2 linked regions of the Homo sapiens genome follow. The protein of the gene in region 1 purifies or fractionates together with the protein of each later gene. This does not show direct contact. Each region holds a gene or a part of one and is shown on either strand. Other genes may lie near its edges.

Region 1 (7,039 bases):
CTTAGCCATATGTTCTACTATACTTACACAGTAGATAGCTGAGTATAACCCCAGGAATGTAACTTCCCAAGATCGTAAAAAATGTGCACACACTACAGACCAGGAGACAAAACTGGAAATAATAGAAATAACATGGGATAGTTAAGCATAACACCAAGATATTTCGGAGCACAGGATACACACACAATTGTAAATCTATAGTGACCGGTATAAGTGACCTATCTGGTTATTACAGATTTTTTCCAAAGAGCATTATTTTGCACTAAGGGCTGACTAATGACTGCTGCATTCAACCAGTCTTAGTCCATTTCAACACTTGGTAATAATTATTTTGAGGACACAGGAGCTAATTTCTGGCACAGAGAGTGACAACTCCCATTACTCATGCCTGTGGCTATATTACTGCCAGGTGCAAGAGAACAGAAAACTATTATGTTCCCAGAAACTTCTTTTACTTCGCTCATTTAAGGAAATTAATGCGGCCTGATAACTACATCTGAAAGTTCAAACTACCACTATAAGCCCACTGAAATTCATAAAAACACAGCAAAACAAGTTACAGAAATTAGAGGTATCTACACAAATCTAACGTAATTTACACAAATCTAATGTAATTTATAGCTGCTAAGCTGACAGGATAAATTTATGGCCATCACTATCCTCTTTCCTAACCATATATACTGCTCAAACTGACCCCACTTCTAAGTCACCTAGAAAAAAACTGCCATTGAAATGAAACTCCTACAGTGACATGTTTATTTTCCTTCTGTCATTTATGGTTAAAAAATCTTGATTGTTTTAAGAAATTTAAAAACATCAGAAAATATCCTTAATTCCCTTTAGAAACATCAAGGCAGAAAAATGTTACCATAAAGTCTTCACCTGATTTTTCACCCTCCAGTCTTAAACTGTCTTACATTTTTCGTCATCTTTAAACAGTGATAGTAAATTAAACTGATAAGCAAGCAAAGGAAATTCATTAAGGGAGTTTCTAAAAGATACAGGAGGAAGGAATACATACCTCTGACCAATAACTGATGATGATAAAGAGCAAAGGGGTCTAAATCTAAGTTTAATTTTGATTTTTCATTCTTCGGTACAGAGTTAATAAATTAACTAGTCAAAAGTAGATTAGATGACTTGTGGAACAAAATTAAGAGCTGTTTCTAAAACAGCAAGGGCCCTTGAAAGAATCTGGAATTCTATAAATGAAATGGAAAGGCCATAAAAGTCAAAGGAACAAATAAGCCAAGAAAAGCATTACTATATCCAGAATTTAGTTTTACAAAGGGATTTCATAATATGCCCTACATTTGTAGCATCATCATTTTAAGCTAATTGACTTGGGGCACATTAATGCAACCCAATGCAGAAGTTTGAAGTTTAGAATCTTCCAAAAATACATTTAATCACTTCAGTAAAATCAACATCAACAGCACATCATGCCCCAAATATAGGTATCTATGCTAAAAAAAAAAAAATGCCTTCAATGAATAAAAAAAATGCATCCAAATGCAATACTGCCACTTTAATACACTCAAAATGTCTCCAAGCATAGTTCTATTATTTAATACTATTGAAGTTACGATATTGCCTATACAAGGTACAAAGACAGAGATTTTCAATGCTGACATTCCTAGCTCTTCATTCTATCCACGGGTGGATATTCAAGGAGCTTGAAAGCAACACTGGAATAGACAAGGTCTATTGATGGTTCTGCACCTCACCCAAGCTATCAAGACAGTTGATCAGAATTAAAGCTGCCTTTATGCATAAAATAATACAAGTATGTGCAGCACTCCATGTAATCCCTTCCCAACCATGTAAGACACTTCCCCCTCATGGGTTTTATCTTAATTGGAAAAATACTCATTTTGTTTATATAATCACTATGAATGTTTTTGCCAAAAGTTTTCTTTCTTAAATAAGTAAATCATACAAGAATCTCCACTTTTTAGCTTGAAAATAAGATTCAGTTATCTCCAAAAGCACAGTCAAAGAACTATGTATTCATTTCATCTCCCTTTGACTTCAGCACCAGGCTAAATACGATAACTGAAATTCTTAAGACTGTTTTCTCCCTAGTCTTGCTGATAAGACCAATCACCATTCATTTTAGCTAATGAGCTAGATAAATATATATAAAATGTAAAACCAATCCAATTTCACAATGTGAGGCTGAGGATTATCTAGTGTTCGCACACTCACACATCTGAACCTTGCTGATACCAGCTTTTATGGCATATGTTCTTAGTATATTATATTTAAAATTGGAGAAATCTGACAAGCTGATAAAATAGGTTAGTTCATTTGTTTCCAAGTAACTGAACATTTTAAAACATACTCCTTTACTGGAAAACTTGCCTTGCCAGGGCTCTGCTGTTTAAAAAGAGACATTTCTTGAAGAAATATGCTGAAATTCATCCATGATTCTGCAATACAGTGGCTGAGCCTGGGTCTTTCATCTGGTTTGGAATTGATAACTTCCCAGCTAAAGAGACAAAAAGAAAAAAAATACTACTGAACTTTGGATGATTCATTCAACATTTATGGCTTTGGCAAATATTTATTGAGCATCTACTGTTGGCCACACCCTCTGGAAAAGCCCTGTGAATTCAGAAGGGAACTATCCAGACACCTGCTTCAGGAAACTCACATGTCAAAAGAAACAATTAGCTGTCTAATTAATTGTCTGTTTACAATCAGGGAAACACTCAGGGAGAACAGGGTGAGGCTTAGGGACATCTTTAATGAAGAGTCATTTTAAAACTCAGATATGGGATGGATCAGCAGGTTAATCATAGGGTTCCAGGTAGAACAACATGCAATATATGCAGAAGCCCTGGAGTGGGAAGGAGCTTAAATGTGCTATCCTATTGAGTCTCAATGTGACTCCAGCAAAGTCAACCAGAAGAAAAACATGTGAAGCTGGAGGGGTAGGAGGAGACTAGGTCATGGAAGACTTGTTAGAAACGTCTTAAACCTTAAGGATTGGGAAACCACAGTACTTTTAGAGAAACCTTGGAATTAAGCATACAATATTAAGAATAAATACCAACAATGTATTTTCAATATATACCATGGTTGGAAAACTCTATAGAAAATTGTTAAAAAGATCTTACAATATCCTCTATTTTTCCAGAGTACATTTTCCTAATCATCATCTAGAATGTGTTGAGTGTGATGCATGGGCCGGCAACCAGCTTTCTCCCTGCCCTCATTTTCCACAGGAACCTCAGTGAGCTAAAAACTAGAAACAATCACTCCAGGAAGAAGACACATGTAAATACATGTCATTCCCTAACATTACAATGACATAAAGCTTAATTCCTGCTCTTGCAATCCTAACTCATAAAAACATACCAGTTCAAACAAGCCCTGTTAAGAATCCTCAAATTCATTCATTTAAGAGATTATTGAGAGATATGTGTCTACCATGTTGAAGGCACTGCCACAGAGCTATGGATATGGCAATAACAAAAGCAGCAAAGTTTCTAGAAGAAGACTAGAATTGTTAGTGAACTATCATCTGAGCTGTGGTAGGGTACCAGGGTGAGGCTGATCTCTGGATTCAATTCCAGTAGCCCTAAGACAAATCAAAACTACCTTTGCCCTTAGATGCTCAACTATACAGAAGTTTATGTACATACAGATTCTGTGACTTTTAATATATTTTGAATAGTAAGGCAATTTGTAAATTACAATTCCTTTTTATAAAAATAATTTTAATCCAAGTTTAAATGAGTGCAATAGCATATTTTAAAAGGGGGGAAGTATACCATTTTCCTTCCTCTTTGTTCTTTCAGCCTCAACTAATGCTCTGGAGAGTCACTGAGCTACCAGTTGTCCAGGCTGATGTTATTCCTGCAGGTAGATTTCCTGTCTGTCAGAAGAAATGAACTTTTGGGGATGGTTTATGCATCCATTAACTCTACCCACTCTTGAATCACTGAGCAAATCTGTTTTCAGCAGGACCATATCTGGCACCAGGTTTGCATACCCCATGATTCCACATCTATTAAAATACTAAGTGCATAGCTAAGAAGCAGATATCTGTGGCAAAATCTTGCCACAGATATCTGCTTAGTGGGAAAAGATTTTGCACCAGAGAGCAAAAGCTATATGGCAAAGGAAATATAAGGTTATTAAAATGCAGTCTGTTTTCTCAGAATAATATAGATTTGCTGCAAATTGGCACAGACAGGCTAAGCTACTGTTCAGTTTAATGGGACCATGAAGATGACAGAAAACATTTTAATTTCTGCTCTCTATGCATATTGAATAATTATTTAAGGATGCATTTGAACTGTTTGCCCAATATAATTCTAACAAAAATCAATGAAAAGCTATAATGGAAGGATTTGTTATTTTCTTTTAAACATTAAGATGGAATAAATGAACAGTTCATAACTCCTGGCCTCAAACAATCCTCCCACCTTGGCCTTCCAAAGTGCTGGGATTACAGGCATGAACCACTGCGCGAGGACAAAAAAATATTTTTTTGAATGAATAGTACTTTGTACAGATGCTGGAACTTTGTTCTAATATCATCTTTAGGATTCATGTCTTGGAAATGACACCATATCCATATTTGTTTACATATTTTTTATTACTGCTTAAGTAAATGTCCCCAAATTGTAAAAGAGCCTAGTATAATACTAAATTGTCACTATAGAGATAATGTTAGAACAAAGACTTCATATAACTTAAAGTGTTTTATAGAGATTACTATGAAATAACTAAAAACTCTCTTTAGCATTTAAGGAAGGGTCTTATCTATTTTCCACAGGGGACTTCAAGTGGACACCATCTATCCACTAATTTATTCATTTATTCAATAAAAAGTTATTAAGTTCCCCCTTTGTGTCTTGCATCACACTAAATGTGGAAAATACTGTTATCAAAAACTTGAATGCTGGTAGCACTATTCCTCTGTGTCTATAGATAAACACTATTTGCTGGAAAGAAAGAAAAAAATATGCAATCTTTGACTATCTTCCATAGTCATAAGAAAACACTCTTAATTATATTACATTTTTCCCTTTTAAAAAGCTTCATATAATAGTTTTTTGGGACAATAAATTTCATCATTACTTACATTTTTATTAACACAATAAATTATAATTGATATTTGAATTGTTATAATCACAAACAGAAATGAGAAATTCATTGTGTACAACCTGAAAATAATATCTAACCAAATGGGTTTGTAAAGAGTAATAAGTGTTTGAGATTAAAAATAAATGTTCAGATTGGGCTGAATAAAATTTAATCGAAATATATATGATTTAAAAAGAAAATGTAAGTTCCAGGGTGAAAAAAAGATGTCACTCCACATCTTTTCTTCTGGACCAAAAACAGGTGCTCCCTGGGAGTTTAACAATAGTTTTAAATTGCCCAGTGATTAATTCTGAGTACCATAGGAACTCACATTTCTATAGTCTTCCAGTGAGTTTACCATTAATTTATGTCACCACAGTTCAATTTAGGTTATACAGAATTAGATAATTTGTCATGAGACGGGACATTTGATGTCAACTTTTCAAATTCCCTTATTTTATAGGTGAGGAACGTGAAATCCAACTTTTTGCAGCTAGTATGAGGCAGAGCCAAGACCCAAGGCCAGGACTCTGGGTTTCCAATACAGTTCTGATCCTTTAAAATGTGTGCCCTCTTCAAAGGGTGAATACATTCAATGATATTCTTTGAAGAGACCACATGGCAATTCAGAATGAGAAGGAGCATTTCATGTTCCTCACTCCTTCCTAGAACCAGAAGAGATGAGGTGTGATTGACCAATACCAACGTGCCATCATGCAGGACCAACCCTTTCCAGGAAAACAGAGCACTTCATGTGCAGAATCCAAATACTCAGCAGAAACCAAGATCTACGCTTAGTGGTTGGTTGATGTTTAACACAGGTGTCATCTGCACACACACACATACACACGCTGAGTTGCTACGTAATGAAACTCTAGGTTTTCCCAGAGAGCCTTATTTGGAAAACACATAACTAGAAAAAAGATCTCCTGTGAATGCTGGGCAAGGCTTGGGGAACAGATCTTTTCCATGGTGTGTAGCTGTCTTCCCACCATCCTTGGCACTGATCACCATGCAACATAAGGCCCAACTAACATAAAAGGAAATGAAAATACCTAAGGCTTCAAAACATTTTGAGTTTGTACTAAGTTCCTAAACAAACAATACAAGTCTTCTGTGACTGACGCTCAACTAAGGGAGAAAATTCATTACCAGTAGCTTTATTAATATTTCCTCCTTAGTTTCAGAGAGACCATGCACTTTCCAAGTTCAAAAGGAAATAGGTTCTTTGGTTCATCTTTCTATCCATCTCCCCTCCCTCTCGCCAGCCTTCCAGCTTTCTCTCACACTCTTGCCTTCACTAAGGAGTGAACTCACCACACACTCCAGCCACAAGATAAAGACCATTTAAGAGTCACCCCCGATGACCATCATCCCCAACTTTCCATCCTCGTAGCCAGTCCAGTTCAAGTAGTTCCCAGGGAGAAGTCACTACAAGCCCCAGCCTCTACATGGCCATGCCATCTATCAAATGGGCTTTGCTCAAGGATCTGTAACTGTAAATGACTCCCAAAAAAGCCCCAGCAGATGCCATCTGGTTAAGTTTTCCTTCTTACGGAAAAACTAGTCAGGTGTTTTGATGAAGGCCATTCTCCAATCAAGCAATTCTTTATCAAAGAAGCCTAAGCCAGGGCAAAGTCCTTTTTCAGCAGCTGAAGAATTTCTGGTTTTACCTGCCAGTGAAACTCTAAGGGAATAAAACATGGAAAGATGGCTCCTTAGATAAGCAAACTCACTTTGTCCACAGAAAGGAGCTTTGGCTTCTCAGTAGAATTTCAAACCAACATCCCTTCTTTCTTCCTCCCTGTCCCTATTAGAATACAATTTACCATATACATTGGGAGGTCTGGCCAAATAAGCCCTTCATGCAGTTCCTGCAGCTGTAGTTGTGAGACACCCAGGGCACTGTTTAAGCAGCAGCTGTGTGGGCCTTACTGAA
Region 2 (4,765 bases), on another chromosome or scaffold:
GGCCACCAAGCACCATCACTTACCTAACTGACAGCCCAAAGCCAGCATTATATGTAACTCTGGCAGGACTAATCCCCTTCGTTGCCCCACCACTGGTCATGCTGATGACAAAAACTTATATTCCCATATTAGCTTTTACTCAGATGGCTTATGGAGCCAGTTTCCATCTTTCTTGGGTGGGATCAGATGCGGTTTTGCTCTACCAGAAGGTAGTCCAGCCAAACCAGACTACCTTAATTTAGCTAGCAGTACAGCTCCTCTTTTCTTTTCATGGTTTGCCTTCTTATTTCTGAAAGACTTAGTGAAGCCATAGTCACAGTAATAATGGGTATGCGGGTAGCATTACACCTTCAACTTTTTCTCTTACCACATTATCCCAACTGGTTTAAAGCCCTGAAGATAGTAGTCACTTTACTGGCCACTTTTTCATTTATAATCACTTTAGTAGTTAAAAACAGTTTTCCAGAAAAAGGACATAAGAGACCTGGTCAAGTATAAAAAATCTAAAAATACACTGTAGATAACATTTGTATGCCGGCTACACCTTTTTCTACTTCTGTTTGGCTTTTTTCCCCCACACCAATGGTAATTTATTCTCCACGGATTGTTCTTCATTTCTAGAAATTGTTATTTCATAGTAATTACTTGAGCAAAAGCTTGAAAATCCCTGACAAGTACTTTTCATCTCATAGTGTATTAGTTTTCACTCAGTCATTTTATGAATAATATAGTTATCCACTTAAACATTTCAATATTTTAACCATCTTGAAAATTAAAAGATTAAAAATCCCCCCCACCCGACCTCCCCCCCCCAAAAAAAAGCCTACTCCTTAGGCTGAACTGGGTGCATCTGCCAGACCATATGTGGAGGGAAAGGTCCTCAGACACAATCAGCACAAAATCACAAGGTCATCTTGGATGTGGGCAAACCTTGTTTTAATTGCAAACAACTTAATTTACAGCACATTCAATAATGAACCAACAGGAGAGTTGCTGACTTTGTAACATATGAATATATAAAAATCCCTTGCAATTCAGGTAGTCAAGGTAAAAAGCGCATACAAGGAAGGCAATCCTCATTTTTCTGAAAATGTTTACATTTTAAAAGGTGACTAGACATACTTGGAAGTTCAAAGCAGTAGGATGTAGCTTGCAGGGAAAAGAAAACCCTTTTCCATGTTGTTAGGCAGAAGTATATCAAATATATCCCAATTCCACTTGATAAAGTCAGTTGGATGACCTCCTTGAACCAATCTAGGGCAGAACACTTAGTAAAAGCGGGCCCTGGGTGGGGATGTGAATCCAGGAGAAGAGGGGCACCAGATCCCATGCAGCGCCAAACACATCCATTCCACCCTCTAACACATACGAGGCATGTCACCCCATGTCCCTGGACACAAGATCCACAAGAACAGTCAGCAGATGGTCACTGCTCCCACGGCCTGGTGCTTTCTAATGGTCTTAATTCAGGCCATGGAGAAAATCCTTTACCACCAAACACAAACTGTCATTGAACTTCAGTCATAAAGGATGTTGTGGGGGAAATTCTTGTAACACATACATAAGGACTTCTATTTACCTAATTAGAACAATGATTACACAATTGACATTCCTGTTTCCATAAGGTTTTGTTCTCTATGCTGGAATGGCTGAAGAAAAAGTTGTCTATTTTTGGTTTTATTTTACATTTTCAAAAGAGAGGGAACAGAGAGAAAAATGCCCAACTTTGGGGCCCAGCAGGTACAAAAGCAGACTTCTAGGTCCATCAGATTTGGGGGAAGTTTCAATGCCTAGGGAAGGTTAGTGAAGCCCATTATATCCCCAATCGTACAGGAAGAATTCTACAGTTAATCTATCACAGTGTTCCAGCAAAGCATATGTTGAAAACTACAGTTTTCAATCTAACATCTAAATTTTAAAAAGTAGCATTTCAGCAACAAACAAGCTCAGAGAGGCTCATGGCAAAAGTGAAATAACAGAACTATTGCTCAGATGTCTGCAAAGTCAAGCTGCTGCCCTCAGCTCCGCCCACTTGAAGGCTTAGGCAGACACGTAAGGTGGCGGTGGCTCCTTGGCAGCACCATTCACAGTGGCATCATCATACGGGGGTAGCAGCACCTGAGAAGAAAGAGGGACGGCAAGAGTTAATGTTTGAAGAGCACACACGTTCCCCGAGGTTTAGCTTTTACTGAACTTTTATGCAACTAAACATGTTCCACAACTTGTACCAAGTTCAATTTTCTAGCAAGTGGATACACTTCATTAAAAGACTTTTTGAATCCTTAAAGGAGCAAATGGAGAGCGACTCTCAAGCCTTGAGTTTTTCTAACCCTGTCCATGTGTAGCTGGATGGCCAGAGGTCGGTGACTCTAAAAGAAATGGTGATGGCTCTGAAGAGGAAAAAAGACCCCTAGGTGAGTGTGTCCATGTGCACACACAAATAGGGCAGGCACTTGATTGACTACAGTAACCACTCATGGTGAGAACTGCAAAGTGCAGTGAAAACGCCAAGCTTTTGGTATCAGCCTGGATTCAAAGCCTGGGTCAGTCACATTTTATCAGCGTAGCCTTGGGTAAGTTCCTTAACATCAGTTTCCATGTCTATGAAATAAGGATACCTCAGAGTTGGCGGTCTATACACTGGCTGATTTCGGCTTTCTTGGAGTAGAAAATGGAATACAGAATAGTTATATCACCCTTCATTCAGTAAACTAACATTTATTATGCATCTAGTATGTAATAGTCATTGTGAGTATAAGATAATTGAGACAAAAGACAGTCCCTGCCCTTTAGGAGTTCAGAGATGAGAAGACAAAACAAAACCTCACCCACCTCAAGTGATTTGTGGAAAGGGAAAGACTATTCACAAACAAAACCACACTTGGTTAGATTTTCTATCAGGGATATCACTTATGCTTAAAGTGGTATTCATCAATTTTGTTAATTTTCATTTATCTGTCCCTTTAGCTCCTACTAGAACCACACTAAAATTTTGTTAAGTTTTTGTCACATTGCACTCTCCCAAACACACACACACACACACACACACCCCTCCTCTCCAGCTCTACACACTTCATTACTTCTCTCCTCCCAGTCTTGGAGCTCCTGTGGGGCTGAAGCCAGGTCTCACTTCCTCGAGGGTGGGCCAGTGCCTATCCGACAGCAGGAACTCAGATGTTTGCGGAGTGACGGAGGTGCCACTTAGGCCGGCCCCCGAAAAGCCTGTATGGTTCCTTCAGCTGCCTAGGCAGAGGGCACCTGTACTGGCTAGGGTCCAGTCAGAACACAGAAGCCACACAGTGATGTGAATATAGTTTCATGAAGAATTATTAACAGGAGACTGAGGAACCGGGAACTGACTCATGGCGGGGAAAGAGCACTAATGGATAAGAAGATTGAAGTACGGCACTCAGGGACGGAACAAGCTAGAACAGAGGTCCCCAAGGCTGGGCTGAGACACGGCTAGGGAGGGTGTGGCTGAAGCCCATTGGACAGTGGAGAGGCTTCCCGCTGAACCAGGTAGAGGCCAGTGTGCACAGAATCACCTGCGGGAAGCCGTTCCCGGGAGCCACGGCCCGCTCTGGAAACCGCCTGAGAGGCGCTGCCACCGCTGTCTCCGCTCGCACTGGGCCCTGGGGAGCACTGCCAGCAAGATCTGAACACTGCAGAAACACACAGGAACCGGGGGCGGGCAGGCGGGCAGGGGGGTGGAGGAGGGGGGGTGGCGGCTTTCCTCCTCCAGTGCCCCCTACTGGCCTGGCTGAACAGGGTCAGGAGGTGAAGGAGGAGTATCTGCAAGGCCCAGCCCATGTCAAGCTAAATGGGACTCTGGAGCTGTGATGCAAGAAGCCGATAACTGGCCAGCAACACACAGGCAAAGGCAATGCGCCAGAGTCGCACCCGCCAGCCGGCCTTTGTTCCTGAAAGAGGTAGTGATCTTTGCCTATGTGCTAAATACTTTATATGTCAGGTATTAACCAAGATACAGAGTCTGGGGCAAATGTTCAGCGTTGCCCACGTGGAAAAGGAATGGAGTAGGCAAGATACACTCAGTACAGAACACATGCCTGAGGTAAGGAAGCACAGCAGGAAACTAAGTCCAACAAACCAGCACCCACTGAGCACCTAGGTGTCCAGGGAACTCAGTCACAGCGACTTGAACCTGAAAACATGTCACTGTCTGTTCAGGGGCCTGCAATCTAGCAGAAGGCAGACACAGGTAAAACTCAACATGAGCAATGTGTGGATGCAGACAAGTTAGGAAAGAACAGACAAGGACAACCAATTTAGGCTAGGGAGTCAAGGAAGGCCTCTCAGTAGGATGACCAGGTGTGCAGTAAAGAGGATGACATTCCAGTAGGGAGTTAAGAGGAAAGCAGGACACAGGGCACTTTCTGGGAACTGCAAGGTGTTTGCTACAGTGAACACTGAAGGGAGAATGTTGCAGAGATGAAGTTGGAAAGATAGGCACAGGTCAGCACATGAAGAGAGCCTCATGGTCGACCTTGACAAGTTCTAGCCAGTATCTAACAACAGCATCTCCACTAGCAATTCCAAAAGTGTCAGCTTGAGCTGCGGGAAGAAAAAAGTATTCTCTAAAACAAAGCAACAGCTGTCTTCTCTGCGTGTGCATATTTGACTTTAGGACTGAGCCCCCAGCGCACATACGTGTGTGTGCATTAGATACAGCAACTTATAACAAGTGGAAACAGCTGTGACCGCACCAGAAATATTAATTTTAGCAAGACTGAGCTTCACCACAATG

What was found.
Region 2: the proteins of RETREG1 (region 1) and LAPTM4B purify together in Homo sapiens (affinity purification with mass spectrometry; 3 studies listed by BioGRID and IntAct, with this or other methods). This does not show direct contact.

Annotation. Positions count from the first base shown.
Region 1 is NC_000005.10:16,480,982-16,488,020, forward strand, and holds part of RETREG1 (reticulophagy regulator 1), read right to left. Parts: intron 2,492-7,039; coding exon 2,365-2,491; intron 113-2,364; coding exon 28-112; intron 1-27. UniProt on the Homo sapiens protein: Endoplasmic reticulum (ER)-anchored autophagy regulator which mediates ER delivery into lysosomes through sequestration into autophagosomes.
Region 2 is NC_000008.11:97,848,750-97,853,514, reverse strand, and holds the end of LAPTM4B (lysosomal-associated transmembrane protein 4B), read right to left. Parts: intron 2,119-4,765; coding exon 2,041-2,118; 3' UTR 502-2,040; downstream 1-501. UniProt on the Homo sapiens protein: Required for optimal lysosomal function. Blocks EGF-stimulated EGFR intraluminal sorting and degradation.